5 separate regions of the Homo sapiens genome follow, and regions 1, 3, 4 and 5 are each linked to region 2. The links come from fine-mapping of genetic effects on gene expression. A gene starts in region 2. Each other region holds a variant in brackets. All regions are shown on one strand. Distances are between the middles of the regions. Region 1 overlaps CCDC73 (coiled-coil domain containing 73). Region 2 holds the start of PRRG4 (proline rich and Gla domain 4). Region 3 overlaps CCDC73 (coiled-coil domain containing 73). Region 4 has its middle 7.8 kb from the start of QSER1. Region 5 has its middle 23 kb from the start of QSER1.

Region 1 (5,107 bases), 90 kb before region 2:
ACTAAATTATTAGACTATAGTCACCTTATTGTGCTATCAGTTACTAGATCTTATTCAGTCTTATTTTTTTTTGTACCCATGAACCATCCCCAGCTCACCCCTAACCCCACTCCCACTACCCTTCCCAGCCTCTAGTAACCATCATTCTACTCTCTATCTCCATGAGTTCAACTGTTTTAATTTTTACCTCCCACGAATAAGTGAGGACATGCAAAGTTTATCTTTCTGTGCCTGGCTTATTTCACTTAACATAATGACCTCCAGTTCCATCCGTGTTGTTGCAAGTAATAAGATCTCATTCTTCTTTATGGCTGAGTTATACATTCATATACACTGTGTATATGTACCACATTTTCATTATCCATTCATCTATTTACAGACACTTAGGTTGCTTCAAAATCTTGGTTACTGTGAATAGTGCTACAATAAACACGGGAGTACAGATATCTCTTTGATACACTGATTTCCTTTCCTTTGGGTATATACCTAGTGGTGGGATTGCTGGATCATATGGTAGCTCTATTTTCAGTTTTTTAAGAAACCTGCAAATTGTTCTCCGTAGGGGTTATACTAATTTACATTTCCACCAACAGTGTATGAGGGTTCTCTTTTCTCCATATCCTCAACAACATTTGTTATTGCCTGTCTTTTGGATAAAAGCTACTTTAACTGGGGTGAGATGGTATCTCATTGTAGTTTTGATTTGCATTTCTCTGATGATCAGTGATGTTGAACATCTTTTCATATACCTGTGTGCGATTTGTATGCCTTCTTTTGAGAAATATTCAGATCTTTTGCCCATTTTTAAATTGGATTGTTAGATTTTTTCCTATATAGATGTTTGAGCTCTTTATGTATTTTGGTTATTTATCCCTTGTCAGATTGATCATTTGCAAATATTTTCTCCCGTTCTGTGAGTTTTCTCTTCACTTTGTTGATTGTTTCTTTTGCTGTGCAGAAGCTTTTCAGCTTGATGTGATCCCATTTGTCCATTTTTGCTTTGGTTCCTGTGCTTCTGGGTATTACTCAAGAAATCTCTGCCCAGTCCAATGTCCTGGAGAGTTTCCCCCAATATTTTCTTTTAGTAATTTCATGGCTTGAGGTTTTAGATTTAAGTCTTTAGTCCATTTTGGTTTTGTTTTTGTATACGGAAACATAGTGGTCTACTTTCATTCTTCCGCACATGTATATCCAGGTTTTTCAGCACCATTTATTGAACAGTCATTCCTCAATGTATGTTCTTGGCACCTTTGTTGAAAATGAGTTCACTATAGGTGTGTGACTTTGTTTCTGGGTTCTCTATTCTGTTGCATTGGTCTATGTGTTTGTTTTTAATGCCAGTACCATGCTGTTTTGGTTACCATAGTTCTGTAGTATAATTTGAAGTCAGGCAATGTGATTCCTGCAGTTCTGTTCTTTTTGTTCAGGATAGCTTTGGCTAGTCTGGGTCTTTCGTGGTTCCATATAAATTTTAGAATTTTTTTTTCTATTTCTCTGAAGAATGCCATTAATATTTTCATTGGCATTGCTTTAAATTTGTAGATTGCTGTGGGTAGTATGGGCATTTGAACAATATTGATTCTTCCAAACCATGAACATGGAATATCTTTCCATTATTTTTTGTGTTCTCTTCCATCTCTTTCACCAATGTTTTATAGTTTTCATTGTAGAGAGCATTCAATTCTTTGATTAAGTTATTCCTTAGATATTTAATTTTATTTGTAGCTATTGTAAATGAGATTACTTTCTTGACTTCTTTTTCAGATTGCTTGCTGTTGGCATATGGAAATGCTACTGGTTTTTGTATGATGATTTTGTATTCTGCAACTTTACTGAATATGTTTATCAGTTCTAATAGTTTTTGGTGGAATCTTTAGGTTTTTCCAAATAGAAGATCATATCATCTGCAAACAAGGATAATTTGAATTCATCCTTTCCAATTTGGATGCCCTTTATTTATTCTTGTCTGATTGCTCTAGCTAGGGCTTCCAGTATTATGTTGAATAACAGTGGGCATCCTTGTCATGTTCCAGATTTTAGAGGAAAAGGTTTCAGTTTCTTCCCATTCAGTATAATACTAGCTCTTGGTCTATCATATATGGCTTTTACTGTATTGAGGTATGCTCCTTTTATATCCAGTTTTTGAGGGTTTTTAATTATGAAGGGACGTTGAATTTTATCAAATGTTTTCTCAGAATAAATTGGAATAG[T/C]TATATGTTTGTCCTTCATTCTGTTGATATGCTATATCACATTGATTTGCATATGTGGAAACATCCTTGGATCCCTGTGATAAATCCCACTTGGTCATGATAAATGATACTTTTAATCTGTTGTTGAATGCTGTTTGCTAGTATTTTGTTGAGAATTTTTGTATCAATGTTCATCAGAGATATTAGCCTGTAGTTTTCTTTTTCTTTCTTTTTTTTGTAATGTGTCTTTGTCTGGTTTGGTATCAGTGTAATAACAGCCTTGTAGAATGATTATGGAGGTATTCCTTCTGCCTCTACTTTTTTTTGGAATAGTTTGAGTAGAATTGGTATTAGTTCTTCTTTAAATGGTTGATAAAATTCCACAGTGAAGCCATTGGGTCCCAGGCTTTTTCTTTGCTGGGATACTTTTTACTACAGCTTCTGCCTCATTACTTGTTATTGGTCTCTTCAGGTTTTGGATTTCTTCATAGTTTAATCTTGGTAGGTTATATGTGTCTAGAAATTTATCCATTTCTTCTAGGTTTTCCAATTTATTGGCATATAGCTGCTCATAGCCTCTAAAGATCCTTCAAATTTCTGCAGTATCAGTTGTGATGTCTCCTTTTTCATCTCTGATTTTATTTATTTGGGTCTTTTCTCTTGTTTTCTTAGTCTGGATAACAGTTTGTCAATTTTATTTTTTCAAAAAAAGAACTTTCTGTTGCTTTTTTGTATTGTTTTTCTTGTTTCATTTATTTCTGCTCTGATCTTTATCATTTCTTTTCTTCTACTAAATTTGGGTTTGGTTTGCTCTTGCTTTTCTAGTTCCTTAAGATGTATAATTAGGTTGTTTATTTGAAGTTTTTCTTTTTTTTTGATGTAGACACTTACAGCTATAAACTTCCATCTTACTATTGATTTTGCTGTATCCCATAGGTTTTGGTATGTTGTGTTTCCATTATCGTTTGTCTCAAGACATTTTTCAATTTCCTTCTTGATCTCTTCATTGACCAACTGATCATTCAGGAGCATACTGTTTAATTTCCATTGTTTGCATACTTTCCAAAATTCCTCATTATTGATTTCCAGTTTTATGCCATTGTTGTCAAAGAAAATACTTGATATTATTTCAATTTTTTAAATGTTTTAAGACTTGTTTTGTGGCCTAACATATGGTCTAACCTTGAGAATGATCCATGTGCTGAGGAGAATAATTTGTATTCTGCAGCTATTGGATGAAATGTTCTATAAGTACCTATTAGGTTCACTTGGTCTACAGTACAGATTAAGTCCAGTGTCTCTTTGTTGACTTTCTGTCTGGATGATCTGTCCAATGTTGAAAGTGGAGTGTTGAAGTCTCCAACTATTATTGTATGAAAGTCTATCTCTCTCTTTAGCTCTAGTAACATTTGTTTTAAACATACGGGTGCTCCAGTGTTAATGCATATATTTTTACAACTGTTATATCCTCTTTCTGACTTGACCCCTTTATCATTATATAATGACCTTCTTTGTCCCTCAAAACACCTTCTTTGTTTTCTCAAAACAAAAACTATTTTGTCTGATATAAATATAGCTACTCCTGCTCTTTTTTGGTTTCCATTTGCATGGAATATCTTTTTCATCCCTTTATTTTTAGTCTATGTGTGACTTTATAGGTGAAGTGTGTCTCTTGTAGGTAACAGATTGTTGAGTCTTTTTTTTTAATCTATTCAGCCACGCTACATGTTCTTTATGTATTTATATATATTTATATATACTTTAAATTCTGGATTACATGTGCAGAATGTGAAGTTCTGTTACATAGGTATTCACATGCCATGGTGGTTTCCTGCACCCATCAACCTGTCATGTACATTAGGTATTTCTCCTAATGTTATCCCTCCCCTAGTCACCCACCCCCCACAGGCCCCTGTGTGTGATGTTCCTCTCCCTGTGTCCATGTGTTCTCATTGTTCTACCCCCACTTATGAGTGAGAACATGTGGTGTTTGGTTTTCTGATCTTGTGATAGTTTGCTGAGAATGATGGTTTCCAGCTTCATCCATGTCCCTACAAAGGACATGAACTCATCCTTTCTTATGGCTGCATAGTATTCCATGGTGTATATGTGCCACATTTTCTTAATCCAGTCTATCATTGATGGACACCTGGGTTGGTTCCAAGTCTTTGCTATTGTGAATAGTGCCGCAATAAACATACGTGTGCATGTGTCTTTACAGCAGCATGATTTATAATCCTTTGGGTATATGCCCAGTAATGGCATGGCTGGGTCAAATGGTATTTCTAGTTCTAGATCCTTGAGGAATCGCCACACTGTCTTCCACAATGGTTGAACTAATTTATACTCCCACCAACGTGAAAGCATTCCTATTTCTCTACAACCTCTCCAGCATCTGCTGTTTTCTGACTTTTTAATGATCACCATTCTAACTGGCATGAGATGGTATCTCACTGTGGCTTTGATTTGCATTTCTCTAATGACCAGCAATGATGAGCATATTTTCACAGGTCTCTTGGCTGCATAAATGTCTTCTTTTGAGAAGTGTCTGTTCACATCCTTTGCTCATTTTTTGATGGGGTTGTTTGCTTTTTTCTTGTAAATTTGTTTGAGTTCTTTGTAGATTCTGGATATTAGCCCTTTGTCAGATGAGTAGATTGCAAAAATTTTCTCCCATTCTGTAGGTTGCCTGTTCACTCTGATGATACTTTCTTTGCTGTGCAGAAGTTCTTTAGTTTAATTAGATCCCATTTGTCAATGTTGGCTTTTGTTGCCATTGCTTTTCGTGTTTTAGACATAAAGTCTTTGCCCACGCCTATGTCCTGAATGGTATTGCCCAGGTTTTCTTCCAGGATTTTTATGGTCCTAGGTCTTTCATTTAAGTCTTTGATCCATCTTGAGTTGATTTTTGTATAAGG
Region 2 (5,091 bases):
ACAGGGATGTAATTCACTACTGAGAAACAGACTTCATTTCTCTGTCTGCCTCCCTCTCTGTCTATAAACTCTGATATTTGATGTCAGCACAAGGCCTCATTTGTTTTGGTCCAAATATCCAGATATGTGGGCAGACTCATTTTACCAAGGAATGTCATCAAAGTTCACAACTGCTGATTCCATAGCATGAGGCATTTGACCATTGGCCTCTCCCCAAAGTAGTGGGAAATGAAGCACTTTTCCTACCTGAAGATAAATTGCTTCCACTCCATGAAAATGTATTCAGCACGAACAATGTAGAAAGCACTCCCCTGGGTACTGTCGAGAATGCAAAAATGAATAAGTCAGTTCTTGCACTTGATAAGAACTTTACAGGCCCACATTCTCAGATATAGGTCTCAGTCAGATTAAGTTCTCCTCCACAACAGAAGCTGTGGTGTCCATCTCCCCACCAGGAGGTCTCAGTGCTGTAGGTTGACTCAATGAATAAACAGGAAAATGGGTGTTCTAGTGAAAATGTTTCCTATTCTTGTGTTCAACCACAATAAACCATGTCTGGCCTCTTCATAGTCTGATCCCAATTGCTTGAATAAGAGGGAAAGAAGAATCCATCATAGAAATAGTTTAGACCACGAGGTAGACAAATGGAAAGTGAAGAGGAAGGGATTGGAAGAAGGGAAAGGAAAAGCACTGCCTAGAAGGAATCAGTGAAAACAAAATTTCTGCAGAAAACTTAGGAATAATTCAGTTGATTATCAATAATAATAATAAAATAGACAATATCCTTTGGGAGGAGAAAAACAGAATTTGGTAAAAATTGAATTAGTCAAAAATTTGAGGCCGGGCACAGTGGCTCATGCCTGTAATCCCAGCACTTTGGGAGGCCGAGGTAGGTGGATCACCTGAGGTCAGGAGTTTGAGAACAACCTGGCCAACATGGTGAAAACCCCTCTCTCCTAAATGTACAAAAAATTAGCCGGGCGTGGTGGTGGATGCCTGTAATCCCAGCTACTCGGAAGGCTGAGGCAGGAGAATCGCTTGAACCCAGGAGGCGAAGGTTACAGTAAGCCAAGATTGTGCCACTGTACTCCAGCCTGGGTGACAGAGCAAGACTCTGTCTCAAGAAAAAAAAAAAAAAAATGAAGGGGGAAAAAATGTTTCCCTTGGTCCCCAGCAAGTGCCAGACCACTTCGACCAAAGCATAAATAGTGTTTCAAAGAACTGTTAAGCACGTTCTTTGGATAAAGAAGGATGTGACCATCACCTGGCATAGGTACTCTGTCCACCTGCTGCCTTCATTACTTGATGCAGCAGTTTTTGAAGTCTTTAATCAAGACCTTTTTACGCTCTTTTACATTATCAAGGACCCCAAAGAGCTTTCACTTATGTGAATTTTATCTAATGATATTTATTATCTAACATTAAAACTGAGAAATTTTCAAAATATTATTTGAAATCAAGACAACAAAGCTTACTTTTTGTTATGTTTATGCATAGACTCAAGGAAAAGATCAAGATTTCAAGATAATTACTTCAGAAAAATGAGGTTATAGCTATCCTAGTAGATATGAACAAATAGAACTAATCAAAGTACAAAAGCAGTAGCCAAGAGAGTTGGTGGACACCTGTAGTCCCAGCTACTCTGGAGGATGAGACAGGAGGATCTCTTGAGCCCAGGAGTTCCTGGGCAACAAAGTGAGACCCCCTACTCTGAAAAAGAAAAAAGGAAAGAAAAAAAATTAAGTTCACAAGTACTGAGAACAAATTTTATTAATCTCTATAAATCTACATAAATCTCTATAAAATGTACATACTGATAATGTAAACATACTACTATGGAAAATACCAGAAAATACAAGCACGCTCACTCAGGTATTCTATTAGGAGACAGAATGATGACGTTATTACACTTCAAATAGCCCCTGGAAATTTCCACTGTACACTCTTGAGAGAATGAAAGTGAAAATGGCAAATCATTTATTGTTACTATAATGGAAATAGTTTTGCCCTCAGAGACCCCTGGAAAAGATCTTGGAGACATCCCAGACCTGGCGGACCACCATTGGAGAACCAATGTAATCAATTACTTGTAAGGTCATTTCCATTTCTTATCACGAATAAAGGGTATTTTGTCTGATGAATATCTTGTCCTCGTCCCCGGACCACCCTTTTGAGAACAGTTGACCTAAGGTAACCACAGGACTCCTGGCCCAGTGGGACCCAAAGCGAAAAGCCCTGGACGCGCCGAGGGCGCTCTGCTTAAGACTGAGAACCGAAATGCTTCCTGAATTAGGATCATTGAGAACGCCGAGTGCAGACACAAATCGAAAAGCAGCCACCCGCGCCGCCAAGGCGGGGCCAGAACTGGCGGCAGGCGGCTGGCCCGCCCGGGGATGGGGCAGAAGCTGGGGCGGCTGAGAGCGCAGCGCGGGCTCCCGGGAGACGCCGGCCCACTGCCCGCCCGCTCGCCGCAGGTAGGCCCGGCCCCCGGGAGGTGGGGCGCGGCCAGGTGTCCCCAGGTAGCCGCCTCCTCCCGTCCTCCGTCGGCCGCCTCCCCGGACCGAGGCAGGACCTCACCCCGCGCGTGTTCCCCGGGCGCCCCTCTGCGAACCCCAGGCCCTTCCCAGGTTTGCGCGCGGGGGCCATCCAGACCCTGCGGAGAGCGAGGCCCGGAGCGTCGCCGAGGTTTGAGGGCGCCGGAGACCGAGGGCCTGGCGGCCGAAGGAACCGCCCCAAGAAGAGCCTCTGGCCCGGGGGCTGCTGGAACATGTGCGGGGGGACACAGGTACGAGGCCTGGCGGCAGGACCTCGGCGGGGAGGGGGTTACCTGGAAGGGGCCACCTCGGCGGACTGGGTTGGATTCGAACACATAGCGAGGGTTGCCCGCGGCGACAGGTGCCCGATCAGCCCTCGGCAGGGTCACTGGGCACGGCGTTTGTCCCAGGCGCTCTCAGGGGCTGCTTCCTGGGCGCGCGTCGGGTTCCGGCGACCGAAACCGCGCGCCGGGCGCTCTTGCGCCTAGGCTTTGAGTACAACAGGTTGGTGATTCAGTTCGACAGAAACTCAAAGTGCTGAGCTAGGGGCCTTTTTTTTTTAATATTTTTTTTTGTTTGTTTTAGTTTGTTTGACAGTTGCCAGACTATGTTTACGCTTCTGGTTCTACTCAGCCAACTGCCCACAGTTACCCTGGGGTTTCCTCATTGCGCAAGAGGTCCAAAGGCTTCTAAGCATGCGGGAGAAGAAGGTAAGCACTAAAACGTCCCTGGAACCCAGAGCCGCATAGCACAGATCTCAGTGAGAAAGTGCAGTATTTGAAATTACATACCCCCAGCAATCATAGAAACACTAAAATATCCTTTAGTTTAATTTGTGGCATATTTGGCAAGGTTGTGTTTTTTTATGTTCTTTAACTGCAATTTATAGAATTTGATGTCTGTGAGTCTCCTTTAATAAGTATATACGTAAGACCTAGTTTGTGGTTAATTGAATGGAAAACCTATTTCAGCTTCTGAAAATCAGTGAGTGACATTTCTCTAGATGAAGCTGTGTGGCGATTATAATAAGCATAATTACTTGTTCTTCCTGGAGAGGCGAACGGGGAGTCCAGGATCTAGTCTGGACTTGCGAGACCCTGGGCGAGATAACTTAATCCCGTTTGGCTTGAATGTCTTCATCTGTAAAAGTGATGCGGGTGGGGCGTAAAATGATCTCTGAGGTCCTTTTTGACTTCAGATGGTCTAGTTGTCTAGATAAAAGCAGCTAGTTGAGAAAAGATTAGGTTTGGGGCTTGCTAACCTGGAAGTCCACAGTTTTTAGGTTTCAGATCATTAACAGTTTGTTTCCTGCCTATATCTTAAAAGCCTAACCTAGTAAAACCAGAAGAAAAAAAAAGCCTCTGTCTCTCAGCATCCTTCTCCCTGACTATTCATGGTGCTTCCCCACTCAGTGTCAGTACTCTGGATCCACGTCCCCACACATTCCTGTCTCTTATCCCTTCTCATCAGATCCGATTCTCAGCTCATTTTCATTTGGGAAGGATCTGTTACACTAGTACTCCTAACTGACTTTATTAATGATTAATACAGCTGTGTTTGTGTGTGTTGAGCTAGAACAATCCATTAACCCAAAGGCGTGAAACTCTGATGACAGAATTCTAGCAACTGGATAGGCTAGCTAGAGAGAGAGGGAGAGATTTTGGAAGAGGATCCTTTTTAGTCCCTCTCAAGCTGCACCATATATGTAAGTCCACTTAGAAGGTTGCACTTATAAGGTTCCATAATCAGATGCTCTTCCCTAAAATGATTGTGAGTGCAATCATTCATTCACATGACACGGGTATAAGAGACACTCTCGCCGGCACGGTGGCTCACACCTGTAATCCTAGCACTTTGGGAGGCCGAGGCAGGTGGATCACCTGCGGTCAGGAGTTCGAGACCAGCCTGGCCAACATGGTGAAACCCCGTCTCTACTAAATATACAAAAATTAGCCTGGCTTGGTGGCACGTGCCTATAATCCCAGCTACCCGGGAGGCAGAGGCTGCAGTGAGCTGAGATCGTGCCACTGCACTCCAGCCTGGGCGACAGAGTGAGACTCCATCTCAAAAAATAAAAATAAAAGCAAATAAATAAATAAATAAATAAAAGACAGTCTCAAGGACACCACAAGCTATGGAAGGAATTTAGAGATCATACTTGAGTGTGGAGGGCTGGAGATGTCTGTGGAAATGTGAATGAGGGATCCGACACATTTGAAAAGACAACTTGTTCAGTCAGTCACCACTTGATGAACACATGCTAAGTGCCAGGCCCCGTGCTGTGTGGTGGAGACATAGAAATGAAAGACTGCAATCTCTGCCCTGGAGGACATCTTCATCTGTGTGGGAGGCAGGGTGTTTGTTAAACAGACGATCTCCATCAACTGTATAACAGAAGCCAGAACACAGAACTGAGAGCAGAGGAAAGAGTGAGTAGCAGTAACTCTGCCTCAAGAGAGTTGTATGGCAGAGAAGCCAATGCCTTCCATCTGCAAATGGGCTATAATAAATGGAGATATGAAAAGTAACTGGAAATAAAGGACCTTTGGTGAAATTC
Region 3 (5,107 bases), 81 kb before region 2:
GTGAATTTGACAGTTATGTGTCTTGGGGATGCTCTTCTCAAGGAGTATCTTTGTGGTGTTCTCTGTATTTTTTGAATTTGAATGTTGGCCTGCCTTGCTAGGTTGGGGAAGTTCTCCAGGATAATATCCTGAAGAGTGTTTTCTAACTTGTTTCCATTCTTCCTGTCACTTTCAGGTACACCAATCAAACGTAGATTTGGTCTTTTCACATAGTCTCATATTTCTTGGAGGCTTTGTTCGTTTCTTTTCATTCTTTTTTCTCTAATCTTGTTTTCTCACTTTATTTCATTAATTTGATCTTCAATCACTGATATCCTTTCTTCAGCTTGATCGTATTGGCTACTCAAGCTTGTGTATGCTTCACGAAGTTCTCGTACTGTAGTTTTCAGCTCCATCAGGTCACTTAAGCTCTTCTCTACACTGGTTATTCTAGTTAGCCATTTGTCTAACTTTTCAAGGTTTTTTGCTTCCTTGCAATGGGTCAGAACATGCTCCTTTAGCTCGGAGAAGTTTGTTATTACTGGCCTTCTGAAGCCTACTTCTGTCGACTTGTCAAACTCATTCTCTGTCCAGTTTTTTTCCCTTGCTGGCGAGGAGTTGTGTTCCTTTGGAGGAGAAGAGGCATTCTGGTTTTTGGAATTCTCAGCCTTTCTGCTCTGGTTTCTCCCCATCTTTGTGGTTTTATCTACCTTTGGTCTTTGATGTTGGTGACCTACGGATGGTGTTTTGGTGTGAACGTCCTTTTTGTTGATGTTGATGCTATTCCTTTCTGTTTGTTAGTTTTCCTTCTAACAGACTGTCTCCTCAGCTGCAGGTCTGTTGGAGTTTGCTGGAGGTCCACTCCAGACCCTGTTTGCCTGGGTATCACCAGTGGAGGCTGCAGAACAGCAAATATTGCTCTCTGATCCTTCCTCTGGAAGCTTCGTCCCAGAGGGAGGGGCACCTGCCTATATGAGGTGTCTGTTGGTCCCTACTGGGAGATCTCCCAGTCAGGCTAAAGGGGGTCAGGGACCCATTTGAGGCAGTCTGTCTGTCATCAGAGCTTGAACACCATGCTGGCGGAACCAATGATGTCTTCAGAGCTGTCAGGCAGGGATGTTTAAGTCTGGAGAAGCTATCTGCTGCCTTTTGTTCAGATATGCCCTGCCACCAGAGGTGGAATCTAGAGAGGCAGTAGGCCTTGCTGAGCTGCAGTTGGCTCTACCCAGTTCAAGCTTCCTTGCTGCTTTGTTTAAACGGTGAGCACAGAACCACCTACTCAAGCCTCAGCAATGGCAGATGCCCCTCCCCCTGCCAAATTTCAGCATCCCAGGTCAATCTCAGACTGCTGCACTAGCAAGCAAGCAAGGCTCCATGGGCGTTGGACCTGCCGAGACAGGCACAGGAGGGAATCTCCTGGTCAGCCAGTTGCGAAGACCATGGTAAAGTGCAGTATTTGCACAGGAGTGTACTGTTCCTCCAGGTACAGTCACATCTTCCCTTGGCTAGGAAAGGAAAATCCCCTGACCTCTTGCGCTTCCTGGGTGAGGCGACACCCCGCTCTGCTTCAGCTCGCCCTCCACGGGCTGCACCCACTGTCCAACCAGTCCCAACGAGATAAACCAGGTATCTCAGTTGGAAATGCAGAAATCACCCATCTTCTGCATCAGTCTCCCTGGGAGCTGTAGACCGAAGCTGTTCCTATTCAGCCATCTTGGAAGCGACCCATCCTACATGTTCTTATTGGAGAATTTAGTCCATTTACATTCAATGTTATTATTGATAAGTGAGGACTATCTCTCATCATTTTGTTATTTTTTTTTTCTGGTTGTTTTGTGGTTTTCCTTTTTTCTTCCTTCCTGTCTTTCTTTCAATGAAGGTGATTTTTCTCTGGTGGTATTTTTTAATTCCTTGCTTTTTATTTTTGTGCATCTCTTGTATGGTTTTCAATTTGAGGTTACCATTAGGCTTGCAAATACTATCTTTAACCCATTATTTTAAAGTGATAACAAATTAATACTGATTGCATAAACAAACAAGCTAATTACCAAACAAGCAAAAGAAAACTTATAAAAACTCAATAATTTAACTTT[G/A]TCTCCTCACTTTTTACATTTTTGTTGTTTCCATTCATATCTTATTATACTGTCTATGTCTTGAAAAGCTGTTGTAGTTATTATTTTTAATTGGTTCATCTTTTCATCTTTCTACTTAAGATATAAGTAGTTTACACATCACACTTACAGTGTTATAATATTCTGTGTTTTTCTGTGTACCTACTATTACCAGTGAGTTTTACCTTCAGATGATTTCTTATCACTGATTAACATCCTTTTCTTTTGGACTGAAGACTTCTCTTTAGCATTTCTTGTAGGACAGGTCTGGTGTTAATGAAATCCCTCAGCTTTTATTTATCTGGGTAAGTCTTTATTTCTCCTTCATGTTTGAAGGATATTTTCACTGTACATACTATTCTAGGGTAAAACCTTTTTTCCTTCAGCACCATAAATATGTCCTGGCCTGTAAGGTTTCCACTGAAAAGTCTGCTGCCAGATGTATTGGAGCTCCATGTATGTTATTTGTTTCTTTTATCTTGATGCTTTTAGGAATCTTTCTTTATCCTTGACCTTTGGGAGTGTGATTATTAAATGCCTCAAGGTAGTCTTCTTTGGGTTACATCTGCATGGTTTTCTATAACCTTCTTGTATTTGAATATTGATATTTTTCTAAAGATTTGGGAAGTTCTCTGTTATTATCCCATTGAATAAACTTTCTACTCCTCTCTCTCTCTACGTCCTCTTTAAGGCCAAAAACACTTAGATTTGCCCTTTTGAGGCTATTTTCTCGATTTTGTATGTGTGTTTCTTTTTTCTCTGACTGTATATTTTCAAACAGCCTGTCTTCAAGCTCACTAATTCTTTCTTCTGCTTGATCAATTCTGCTATTATGAGACTCTGATGCATTCTTCAGTATGTCAATTGCATTTTTCAATTCCAGAATTTCTGCTTGACTCTTTTTTAATTATTTCAATCTCTTTATTAAATTTATTTGGCAGAATTCTAAATTCTTCTGTGTTATCCTGAATTTCTTTGAGCTTCCTCAAAACAGCTATTTTGACTTCTCTGAAAGTTCACATGTCTCTCTTTCTCTGGGACTGGTCCCTGTTGCCTTATTAGTTTGTTTGGTGAGGTATGTTTTTCTGGATGGTCTTGATGCTTGTGAGTGTTCGTCAGTGTCTGGGCATTGAAGAGTGGGGTATTTTTTGTAGTCTTCACAGTCTGGCCTTTTTGTACCCATCCTTCTTGGGAAGGCTTTCCAGGTATTTGAAGGGACCTGAGTGTTGTGATCTAAGTTTTTTGTCACTGCAGCCGCATCTGCACTAGGGGGCACCACAAGCCCAATAACGATGTAGTTCTTGTAGACTCAGAAGTATTGCCTTGGTGGTCTTGGATAAGATCCAGAAGAATTATCTGAATTACCAAGCAGGGACTCATTCTCTCCTCTTACTTTTTTTTTTTTCTTTTTTTTTTTGAGACGGAGTCTTGCTCTGTCGCCCAGGCTGGAGTGCAATGGCACAATCTTGGCTCACCACAACCTCCACCTCCCGGGTTCAAGCCATTCTCCTGCCTCAGCCTCCCAAGTAGCTGGGATTACAGGCACCGACCACTACGCCCGGCTAATTTTTTGTATTTTTAGTAGAGACGGGGTTTCACTGTGTTGGCCAGCCTGGTCTCAAACTCCTGACCTCGTGATCCGCCTGCCTCAGCCTCCCAAAATGCTGGGATTACAGGCGTGAGCCAACGCTCCTGGCCTCTACTCTCACTTTCTACCAAATAAATGGATTATCTCTCTGTGCTGAGCTTCCTGGAGTTGGGGGACAGGTGACACAAGCACCCCTGTGACGACCACCACTGGGACTGCACTGGGTCAGACCTGAACCCAGTACAGCACTGGGTCTTACCCAAGGCCTGCTATAGCCACTACCTGACTACCACCAGTGTGCACTCAAGGCCTTAGCGATCTACAATCACCAGGTGGCAAAGCCAGGCAGTCTTGTATCCTTCTTTTCAGGGAAGTGACTGTCCCTGAGCTCTAGGCAGGTCCATGCCATCCAGGAGCCAGGGCCCAGAGTCAAAAACCTAAGAAATCCACCTGGTGCTCTATTCCACTGTGGCTAAGCTGGCACCAAAACCACAAGACAAGGTTCTTCCCGTTCTTCCCTCAACTTTCCCAAAGCAGAGGAATCTCTCCCCATGGCCACCACCACCACAGCCAACAGGGAGTATTGACAGGGTACCACTGATGTTCACTTAAGGCCCAAGTCCAGGCCAGGACACACCCTTCAGGACAGTGGGCTCCCCTCTGGCCCAGGGTAGGTCCAGAGATGCTGTCCATGAGCCAATGCCTGGAATTGGGAACCCCTAGAGCCCACTTGGTGCTCTTCCCCACTGTAGCCAAGCTGGTACCTAAGCTGCAAGAAAAGTTCCCTTTATTCTTCCCCCTCCTTTTCTCAAGTGGAAGGGGTCTCTCCTCATAGCCACCATAGCTGTGAATATGCTGGATCACACCTGAAGCCAGCATGTCTGAGTCTCACCCAAGGCCCACAGCATGTACTACCTGGTTATTGCTGCCGATTATTCAAGGCCCAAGCGCTCTTAAGTTAGCAGGTAGTGAATCCTGCCAGAACTGAATCCTTCCCTTCAAGGCAGCAGGTTTCCTGTCTAATCCAGGATGTGTCTAGAAATGTTGTCTGGGAGTTAGGGCCTGGAATGGGAGCCTGATAACTCTGCCCAGTGCCCTATCCTACTGTGGCAAAGCTGGTATCCAAGTTGCAAAACAAAATCCTCTTACCTCTTCCCTCTCCTCTCTTCAAGCAGGAAGGAGTCTCTTTGGGAGCTGTACACTGCACTGCCTGGGGTTGAAGAGGGGTGGCATAAGCACTCCCTTTGCCACCCCGACTGGTGTGTCACTGGGTCGCATGCTCTCTCCAATGGCTCCGAGACCAGTCCAAGTCCACTGGCTCTGAGACCAGTACAGCACTAGGACTTGCCTAGGAAGTGTAGTCCTTGTGGCCTAGATTGGTGTTATTTGGAAACCCCCCAGCGGCAAGGCTTGCTGAAACTCAAGTTCA
Region 4 (5,107 bases), 55 kb after region 2:
TCACCTCCCACCAGGTCCCTCCCCTGACACATGGGGAATAAAATTCCACATGAGATTTGGGTGGGGACATATAGCCAAACTATATCAGTTAGACTACATATACTAAAACTAACATACAGCCTGGCCAACATGGTGAAACCTCGTCTCTACTAAAAATACAAAAATTAGCCAGGTGTGGTAGTGCACACCTGCAATCCCAGCTATTTGGGAGGCTGAGGCATGAGAATTGCTTGAACCTGGGAGGTGGAGTATGCAGTGAGCCAAGATCACACCACTGCACCAGCCTGGGCAACAGAGCAAGACCCTGTCTCAAAAAAAAAAAAAAAATTAACATGCATGATAATTAAGTGAAGTCTAGATCTCTCCCAACAACCTTCCTTTATCACCACCGTATCTGGGGCTTTGCGATAAAGGGAACAGAGAAGTACCTAAGGGAAGGGGGAGGATATAAACCAGCTGTGCAGAGGGCAGAGTGTGCTTTGGTGTCTTAGGCCAGGCTGTAGCAAAGAGAAGCTGAGGCTTGAGGATACATGCTCTACCACCCTTAGTTTGGGGCTCAGTCCTCTGGAGGCAAACCCTCTGAAAAATATTTGCCTCAAGCTGTGTTTTCAAACAACTGGGACAACAGGTGTACAATGAGACTGTCCTAGGTAATGAAATGTTTTTTTTTTCTTTTCTTAGTGTGTGTGTGTGTGTATGTGTGTGTGTGTAGTATGTGTGTATAAATCTATAAAGGGTCTTTTGGCATACCAGTTCCAACCAGGCTGAAGATGTAGACTAGAGTGGGACATTAGGAAGGGCAAGAGAATGTTTTCCATAGCTTTGATCAACTCATCCTCCTGCTTAAAATGTTCTCATGGCTCCCTATTGTGAGAAAGTATACTAAAGTACTTATATGTTTGGATGATGGTCCAAATCTGGGACTATTTGAACATCAAAATAAACAAATGTGGTAATGGATTATAATCCTATGGTTGGGGACCCCTAAGACCACCCTCAATTTCAATGATTTGCTACAAGAACTCAAAGAACTCAGACACATTGTTATACTCGTGGTTATGATTCATTATGGTAAAAGGATGCAAATTAAAATCAACAATATGAAAATGCACATAGTGCAGAGTCCAAGAAAGACCAGATGCAGGCTTCCAGTGTCCTCTTTCAGTGGAGCTGTGCGGACATTAATACTATGTGACAACACACGTGAAGTATTGTCAATCAGAAGCCCACCTAAGCCTTGGTGTCCAGGGTTTTTATTGGGGGTCAATTGCATAGTCATAGTAATTGCTCCTATGGCTGACCTGAATTCTCCAGTCCCTCTAGAGGTCAAGCTGATATTATGTGGCCCAAAGTGCCCACTATAAATCGCATTGTTAGCATGAATGATCTGGTGTGGCCCAAGGCCTTAACTAAACAAAAATACTCTTTATTAAGAGCCTTGAAACTAGGCAAGGGCCAAACTTTTCTTTGCAATGTACAGGGTTTGAACAACCCACACCTGCTGAGTTAATCCTTTACAAATCTGCTAAATAAAATAAAAATCCATGAGTACATATTGATATAAATAAACAAGGAATGTTAAATTAAGTTTAGCCTAAAGCTGCCGCCTTACATATTTTAAGGTCAGCCTAAAAATTTCTCCGTACATGGTGAACTATAACCTAACTGGATGTGTAAACAGACTGTACCTATTCTTGTGCCAATCACTGAGTTTTAGCCAACCAAGGGTGGCCAACTGTTCAAACCATGTTCAAATAAGGCAAACACTGAGCCGTAACCAATCAGCTGTTTTTATACTTGTATTAGTCTGTTCTCACACTGCTATAAAGAACTACCTGAGACTGGGTAATTTATCAAGAAAAGAGGTTTAATTGACTCACAGTTCTGCAGGCTGTAAAGGAGGCAAAGCTTCAGAGGCCTTAGGAAACTTACAATTGTGGGAGAAGGCAAAGGGGAAACAAGCAATTCTTCACATGGCAGCTTAAGACAGAGAGAGTAAAGGGTGAAGTGCTACACACTTTTAAACAACCAGATCTCGTGAAAACTCACTATCACAAGAATAACAAGGAGGAAACCCGCCCCCATGATCCAATCACCTACCACTAGGTCCCTCCCCCAACACTGGGAATTACAATGCAACATGAGATTTGTGTGGGGACACAGAGCCAAATGATATCAATACTCACTTCCATTTTCTGTATATCACCTTCCTTTTCCCGTCTGTAAATCTTCTTCCACCAAACAGCTGTGCTGGAGCCTCTCTGAACCTATTCTGATCCAGGGGCTGCCCAATCCAAGTTATTTTTTGCTCAATTAAACTCTATTAAATTTAATTTGTCTGAGGCTTTTCTTTTTAACAGGGATGAGGAACAATCCTTCTTGAAGAATGATAACTAATGATGTAGAAGGAATGATGAAGTTAGAAAAATCACTACAGTTGGTCCTCTGTATGTGTATAGCAGAGCCTCTAGAGGGAGCATGACCCTGCCAACTCCTTGATTTCAGACTTCCAG[T/G]CTTCAGAACTGTGAGATAATGAATTTCTGTTGTCACCTAGTTTGAGGTCATTTGTTGCAGCAGCCATAGGAAACTAATGATATGAACAGGAGACAGGGAGATCGGGAAATTCTGCGTAGAAGAGGGTGGTTCCCTGGCAAAGGCCCCACCTTCAAGCCTGTAGACCATGGCCCTAAATGGAGACAGGCATTCCTGTTTTCATGCCCAAAACATTGCCTTTTGGCCCACCATGCCCCCTATCTCTTACCCATATAAACCTGGAACCCCAGGCTCCAGAAGCAGATGAGCAGACAAGCAGACGAGGAGACAAGGAGACAAGCAGATGAGCTGTGGCACAGCACAGCAGGGAAAGAGAGAAGAGGAGGAATGTCTGAACGCCAAGAGGAGTTCAACTGAGGGCAGTCAGGGAGGAGTTTGGCTGCTGGATGGCCAAACTTTAGGGGATCATCTTCCCACTCCATCCTCCCTTCCAGCTCCCCATCCATCCCACTGACTGCCACCTCCGCCACTCAGTAAAACCCCACATTCATCCTTCAAGCCTGTGTGTGACCTCATTCTTCTGGGACGCTGGACAAGAGCTCAGGATACAGAAAGCTGTCACACTGGCCCTCTGCTCTTGCAGAAAGGCAGAGGGTCCATTGAGCTGGCTAACACTCAAGCTGTCTGCAGACGGCAAGGCTAAAAGGGCACACGGTAACACACACCCACTTGCGCTCCTGCACCTGCCTGTCTGCGTGCTCCCCCTCCCATCAGGGGTTTGAGCAGTGGTGGCAATCAAATAGGCAAGCCACACCCCTGTCGCACGTCCTTCGAGGGGGATTACGGAACATGCTTGTTTCAGTAATACATATGCTTAAAGCAGAGGTGAAAGAATGATGCCTTGAGAATTTTTTTTTTTTTTAGACAGATTCTCACTCTTACTGCCCAGGCTGGAGTGCAATGGCGTGATCTTAGCTCACTGCAACCTCCGCCTCCCGGGTTCAAGCAATTCTCCTGCTTCAGCCTCCTGAGTAGCTGGGATTACAGGTGCCCGCCACTATGCCCGGCTAATTTTTGTATTTTTAGTAGACATGGGGTTTCACTATGTTGGCCGGGGTGGTCTCGAACTCCTGACCTCAGGTGATCCGCCCGCCTCGGCCTCCCAAAGTGCTGAGGTTACAGGAGTGAGCCACTGCACCGGCCTCAGGAATTTACACAATATTCAAGTATCCACGAAATACTTATTGATTACAAAGTAAAATGTAGTAACTCTTTAGAGGAGAAATCTGGCAGTAACTCCTTTAACCAAGCCTATTTGGTTTGGAGTCAAATTGCTGATTTGAAGCTCCACTTGCATCATTGTGGTTTTTTGTTTGTTTTTTTGTTTGGAGACAGTCTCACTCTTGCCCAGGCTAGAGTGCAATGGCAACATCACAGCTCACTGTAACCTCTGCCTCCCAGGCTCAGGTAATCCTTCTGCTGCAGCCTCCCAAGTAGCTGGTATACAGGCACACGCCACCACACCCAGCTACTTGTTGTATTTTTTGTAGAGACAGGTTTTGCCATGTTGCCTTGGCTGGTCTCGAACTCATGGGCTCAATCAATCCGCCCACCTGGGCCTCCCCAAGTGCTGGGACTACACGCGTGAGCCACCAGGCCCTGCCTGCATCACTGTCTTATATTAGCTTGTACAATGTTGGGAAAGTTACTTAATTTCACTAAGCTTCAATTTCCTGTAAAACGGATTAATAATAAAAAATATCCACATCTTAAGGATCTTAGGAGGATTGTGACAATTCCACATAAAGCCCTTAGCACAGGACCTAAGACATACATTGTCAATATGTATCAGTTATTCTTATGAGAATCACTCTCACCTACAGGTTTAAATCTCCTGTAATCTATTTAGGGAGATAAAATGTCCTCTCAGTGAAAGACTTCATGACAAGGCCACAGCCTTGTCTTTCCAGTTCATACTTAAATTGTACTCCTTTCCCAGACCTCCTGGTTTCTAATCATTCAACCTTGCTTACTGCAGGCCCTTGATCAACGAAACCATTCATCAGTGCCCCAAAGTCCCTCCATATCCGTAGCTCAGAAAACTACCTCTCCGCACAAAATTGATGATCAAGTATGTTTCTTGAAGCTCTTTCAGGGACACCCCCTAGTGAGGCTGCAGCTTCCAGAGAAGCAGGGTTAAACAGCAGCTTTCCTGATTCCATTGCTGTCTCCCTGGAGGGGTATGGCAGACAACAATGAGCAGAGTCAAAAGATGATTGATAGGGTCAAGCCTCAGAGACAGAGAAAATTATAGTGGGACTTAGTTTCCTTCTAACTTTTTTTATTTTAATTTTTCTTTAGAAACAGAGTCTTGCTCTGTTGCCCAGCCTGGAGCATAGTGACATGATCATTCCTTACTGTAACCTCGAAATTCTGGGTTCAAGTGATCCTCCAGCCTTAGCCTTTGGAGTAGCTAGGACTGTGTCCGGAATTGGCGGGTTCTTGGTCTCACTGACTTCAAGAACGAAGCCACAGACCCTCGCAGTGAGTGTTACAGTTCTTAAACGGAGGGTGTCCGGAGTTTCTTCCTTCTGGTGGGTTCGTGGTCTGGATG
Region 5 (5,107 bases), 40 kb after region 2:
CACAGAATTAGAAAAAAACTATTTTAAAATTCATACAGAACAAAAAAAGAGCCCAAATAGCCAAAGCAATCCTAAGCAAAAAGAACAAAGCTGGAGGCATCATGTTACCCAACTTCAACCTATACTACAGGGCTACAGTAACCAAAACAGCATGGTACTGGTACAAAAGCAGACACATAGACCCAGGGAACAGAATAGAGAGTTCAGAAGCAAGGCTGCACGCTTATGACCACAAGGTCTTTGACAAAGCTGACAAAAACAAGAAATGGGAAAAAGATTCTCTATTCAATAAATGGTGCTAGGATAACTGGTTAGCTATATGCTGAAGTTTGAAGCTGGACTCCTTCCTTACACCATATACAAAAATCAACTCAAGATGGATTAAAGACTTAAATGTAAAACCCAAAACTATAAAAACCCTGGAAGGCAACCTAGGTGATACCATCCTGGACATAGGAATGGGAAAAGAGTTCATGACAAAGACACCAAAAGCAATCACAACAAAACCAAAAATTGACAAATGGGATCTAATTAAATTTAAGAGCTTCTGCACAGCAAAAGAAACTATCAACAGAGTAAACAGAGGACCTACAGAATGGGAGAAAATACTTGCAAACTATGCATCTGACAAATGTCTAATATCCAGCATCTATAAGGAACTTAAATTTACAATAGAAAAACAATCAGGCTGGGCGCAGTGGCTCACGCTTGTAATCCCAGCACTTTGGGAGGCCGAGGTGGGTGGATCACAAGGTCAGGAATTCGAGACCAGCCTGGCCAATATGGTGGAACCCTGTCTCTACTAAAAATACAAAAAGTAGCTGGGCATGGTGGCATGCACCTGTAGTCCCTGCTACTCGGGAGGCTGAGGTGGAAGAATAGCTTGAACCTGGAAGGCGGAGGTTGCAGTGAGCCGAGATTGCACCACTGCACTCCAGCCTGGGTGACAGAGCAAGACTTCATCTCAAAAAAAAAAAAAAAAAAAAAGAAAAGAGAAAAGAAAAATAATCCCATTAAAAGTGGGCAAAGGACATGAACAGACACTTTTCAAAAGAAGACATACATGTGGCCAACAAGCATATAAGAAAAAAAATATATCACTGAACATTAGAGAAATGCAAATCAAAACCGCAATGAGATACCATCTCGCACAGTCAGAATGGCTATTATTAAAAAGTCAAAAAATAACAGATGCTGGTGAGGTTGCAAAGAAAAGGGAACACTTATACACTGTTGGTGAAAATGTCAATTAGATCAACCATTGTGGAAAACAGTATGGCGATTCCTCAAAGAACTAAAAACAGAACTATTTAACCCAGCAATCTCATTCCCGGGTATATACACCCAGAGGAATATAAATCATTCTAACACAAAGACACATGCACACGAATGTTCACTGCAGCACTATTCACAAAAGTAAAGACATGGAATCAACCTAAATGCCCATCAATGATAGACTGGATGAAGAAAATGTGGTACATATACACCATGGAATACTATGCAGCCATGAAAAAGAACAAGATCATGTCTTTTGCAGGAACATGGATAGAGCTGGAGGTTATTATCCTTAGCACACTAACGCAGGAAGAGAAAACCAAATCCCACATGTTCTCACTTATAAGTGGAAGCTAAATAACTCATGAACGCAAAGAAGGGAACAACAGACACTAGGGTCTACTTGAGGGTGGAGGGTGGGAAGAAGGAAGAAGCAGAAAAAATAACTATTGTGTACTAGGCTTAATACCTGGGTGATGAAATAATCTGTACAACAAACCCCCATGACACAAGTGTACCTATATAACAAGCCTTCACATGTACCTCTGAACCTAAAAGTAAAACAATAGAGTAAAAAATAAAATAAAGTGAAAATAAAATAAAATAATGTGAGTAGAAATAAAGAACTACTTGTGATAAAATAATCCATCAATGTATGGCTCAAAATTAAAGCTTGTTTTAATATAATTTTAATGTAAGCTATGTCTCAAGATAAACTAACTGAAATTCCTTTTTTTTTTTTTTTTTCAGACGGAGTTTCACTCTTATTGCCCAGGCTGGAGTGTAATGGTGTATTCTCCGCTCACTGCAACCTCCGCCTTCCCGGTTCAAACAATTCTCCTGCCTCAGCCTCTGGAGTAGCTGGGATTACAGGCGCGAGCCACCACACCCGGCTAATTTTTGTATTTTTAGCAGAGACGGTGTTTCACCATGTTGGCCAGGCTGGTCTCAGACTCCTGACCTCAGGTGATCCGCCTGTCTTGGCCTCTCAAAGTGCTGGGATTACAGGTGTGAGCCACTGCGCCCGGCCTGAAATTCTTTTAAAAAATAATAATTAAGGCCAGGCACAGTGGCTCATGCCTGTAATCCCAGCACTTTGGGAGGCTAAGGCAGGCAGATCATGAGGTCAGGAGTTCGAGACCAGCCTGACCAACATGGTGAAACCCCATCTCTACTAAAAATACAAAAATTAGCCAGGCATCGTGGTGCGCACCTGTAATCCCAGCTACTCGGGAGGCTGAGGCAGGAGAATTGCTTGAACCCGGGAGGTAGAGGTTACAGTGAGCTGAGATTGCCCCACTGCACTCTAGCCTGGGCAACACAGCGAGACTACATCTCAAAAAATAAAAATAAAATAAAATTTAAAAATAATAATTAGGCCGGGCGCGGTGGCTCATGCCTGTAATCCCAGCACTTTGGCAGGCCGAGGCAGGTGGATCACCAGAGGACAAGAGTTCAAGACCAGCCTGGCCAACATGGTGAAACCCCGTCTTTACTAAAAATACAAAAATTTGCTAGGTGTGGTAGCGCCTGCCTGTAATCCCAGCTACTCAGGAAGCTGAGACAGGAGAATCACTTGAACCCGGGAGGCGGAGGTTGCATTGAGCCAAGATCGCACCACTGCACTCCAGCCTGGGTGACAGAGCGAGACTCCATCT[CAA/C]AAAAAAAAAAAAAAATAATAATAATAATAATAAACTAATAAACACATAGAAACCAAAACAAATGTAACACTCCCAAACTCATTCCTGAAAAGGGGCACTGCAGAAATGTTATCAAGAATCTTATCTTACACCAAATGATACACAAGCAACCCATGCTATGTCCAAATGACACAAAAGCTCAAATAGCATAGACAGAGGATTCCCCGTGTGTGCCCTGGTTTGACTTACCCAGTCTTGGGGCCCATCAACTCCCTTGGATACCACTTGCACCACCAAAGTGTTACAGGCTGCTGATTCCATGAAGGGGACAGAAGAGAGGGTCCCCAAGACAAAAGATTTCTCAGTTGCTGCTAGGACACTCCTGGAATCCCAGCCACAGAGGCAGCTAGCCATGAGCAGCAACTAGCACTCATAAGCGGTTGCTGCTCTGCCTGATAACATGAACAGGTAAGCCCTGGTGCACTGCTGCAGCCAATTGCTCCATCCATGGAAACCAGGCAGGCTAGACCACCAGAGGGCACACAGCCCCACATTGGGTGCCAAATTTTGTAACTGAACCTATGTTTGGCTGCTTGCTGCTCAAAAACCAGACACGAGAAATGAGGGTTGGTGGGAGGAAAAGCCAGATTTATTTGGAAAGCCAGCAAAACCAAGAAGATGGTGAATTCATGTTTAAGAAATCATTGTCTACTCAAGGTTGTGAAGATTTTTTTTTTTGAGACGGAGTCTCGCTCTGTCGCCCAGGCTGGAGTGCCGTGGCGCCATCTCGGCTCACTGCAACCTCCACCTACTAGGTTCAAGCAATTCTCCTGCCTTAGCCTCCCGAGTAGCTGGGACTACAGGCACATGCTGCCACCCCTGGCTAATTTTTTTTTTTTTTGTATTTTAGTAGAGATGGGGTTTCACTGTGTTGCCCAGGCTGGTCGCGAACTCCTGAGCCCAGGCAATCTGCCCACTTCAGCCTCCCAAAGTGCTGGGATTACAGGCGTTGAGATACCGCACCCAGCCAGAAGATTTCTTTTTAATGTTTTCTTCTAGTCACTTTATAAATGCAGCTTTTACATGTAAGTCTAATTTTTATGTTTATCAGGTAAGAGCTGAAGTTCATTTTCTTCCATGCAACTATGCAGTTGTTTTAGCAACACATCTTTAAAAGGCTGTCCTTTCTCCGCTGAATTATCTTGGTACCTTTGCTGAAAATCAATTGATCACACATATGGGGTTCTGTTTTACTGATCATAGTTTATCCTTATATCAATATCATATTATCTTGATGACTGTAGCCTTGTCATAAGTCTTCAAAAGAAGTAGTCTAAGTTCTCAAACTTTGTTCTTTCCCAAAAAATTTTTGGCTATTTAATACATTTAACATTGCATACATTTTGGAATTAGCTAGTCAATTTCTAAATCAAAAGACTGCTGAAAATTTGACTAGAATTGCATTTAATTTATAGAAAAACTTACATGTATTAAACAATCCATAGTTTTTTTGTTTGTTTGTTTGTTTTTTTAGACAAAGTCTTGCTCTGTTGCCCAGGCTGGAGTGCAGCGGTGCGATCTCAGCTCACTACAACATCTGCCTCCCAGGTTCAAGTGATTCTCCTGCCTCAGCCTCCTGAGCAGCTGGAATTACAAGTGCATGCCACCATGCCCAGATAATTTTTGTACTTTTTGTAGAGACAGGGTTTCACCATGTTGGCCAGGCTGGTCTCGAACTCCTGACCTCAAATGATCTGCCTGCCTCAGCCTCCCAAAATCCTGGGATTACAGGTGTGATCCACTGTGCCCAGCCCATAGTATGTTTTCTCATGTATTAAGATCTTTTAAATTTATCTCAGCAATGTTTATAGGTTTCGGTATATAGGAGTTACGTCTATTTTGTTAAATTCATCCTTAAGTACTTAATGTCTTTTTACACTGTTCTAGATGACATCTTTAAAATTTAATTTTCCAACTTTCTTTCCAAGAGAATTCCAATTATGTTTTCAAGAGAATTGAAAACGTATGTTCACATAAAAAATTGTTTATAGCAGCATTATGCGTAATAACCAAAAAGTGGAAACTCCCAAATGTTCATCAACCTATGAGTGAATAAACAAAAAGTAGTATATACATACAAGGGGATATTATTCAGTTAGAAAAAGGAATGAAGTACTGACACATGCTACAAC

What was found. PIP is the estimated chance that this variant, and not a neighbour inherited with it, causes the effect. A credible set is the group of variants that fine-mapping cannot tell apart.
Region 1: its variant is the best candidate, but not a certain one, in a credible set for the expression of PRRG4 in whole blood (TOPMed, PIP 0.50).
Region 3: its variant is the best candidate, but not a certain one, in a credible set for the expression of PRRG4 in whole blood (TOPMed, PIP 0.50).
Region 4: its variant is the best candidate, but not a certain one, in a credible set for the expression of PRRG4 in monocytes (TOPMed, PIP 0.77).
Region 5: its variant is the best candidate, but not a certain one, in a credible set for the expression of PRRG4 in whole blood (INTERVAL, PIP 0.58).

Annotation. Positions count from the first base shown.
Region 1 is chr11:32,737,731-32,742,837 of GRCh38, forward strand. All of the region lies in intron 2 of CCDC73 (coiled-coil domain containing 73), which reads right to left. Among named protein-coding and RNA genes, the nearest start is that of CCDC73, 54 kb to the right of the region's middle. The variant T/C (reference allele first, on the strand shown) is at 2,211.
Region 2 is chr11:32,827,389-32,832,479 of GRCh38, forward strand. It overlaps PRRG4 (proline rich and Gla domain 4), which reads left to right and starts at 2,539. Exons shown (of 6, transcript NM_024081.6): 1 at 2,539-2,785; 2 at 3,120-3,244. The coding sequence starts at 3,142. It also overlaps a transcript of CCDC73 not described here. RefSeq lists a silencer at 2,316-2,695 and enhancers at 3,116-3,165, 3,176-3,235.
Region 3 is chr11:32,746,382-32,751,488 of GRCh38, forward strand. The region is part of intron 2 of CCDC73 (coiled-coil domain containing 73); the gene reads right to left. Among named protein-coding and RNA genes, the nearest start is that of CCDC73, 46 kb to the right of the region's middle. The variant G/A (reference allele first, on the strand shown) is at 2,073.
Region 4 is chr11:32,882,506-32,887,612 of GRCh38, forward strand. No RefSeq gene overlaps it. Among named protein-coding and RNA genes, the nearest start is that of QSER1, 7.8 kb to the right of the region's middle. The variant T/G (reference allele first, on the strand shown) is at 2,514.
Region 5 is chr11:32,867,450-32,872,556 of GRCh38, forward strand. No RefSeq gene overlaps it. Among named protein-coding and RNA genes, the nearest start is that of QSER1, 23 kb to the right of the region's middle. The variant CAA/C (reference allele first, on the strand shown) is at 2,934.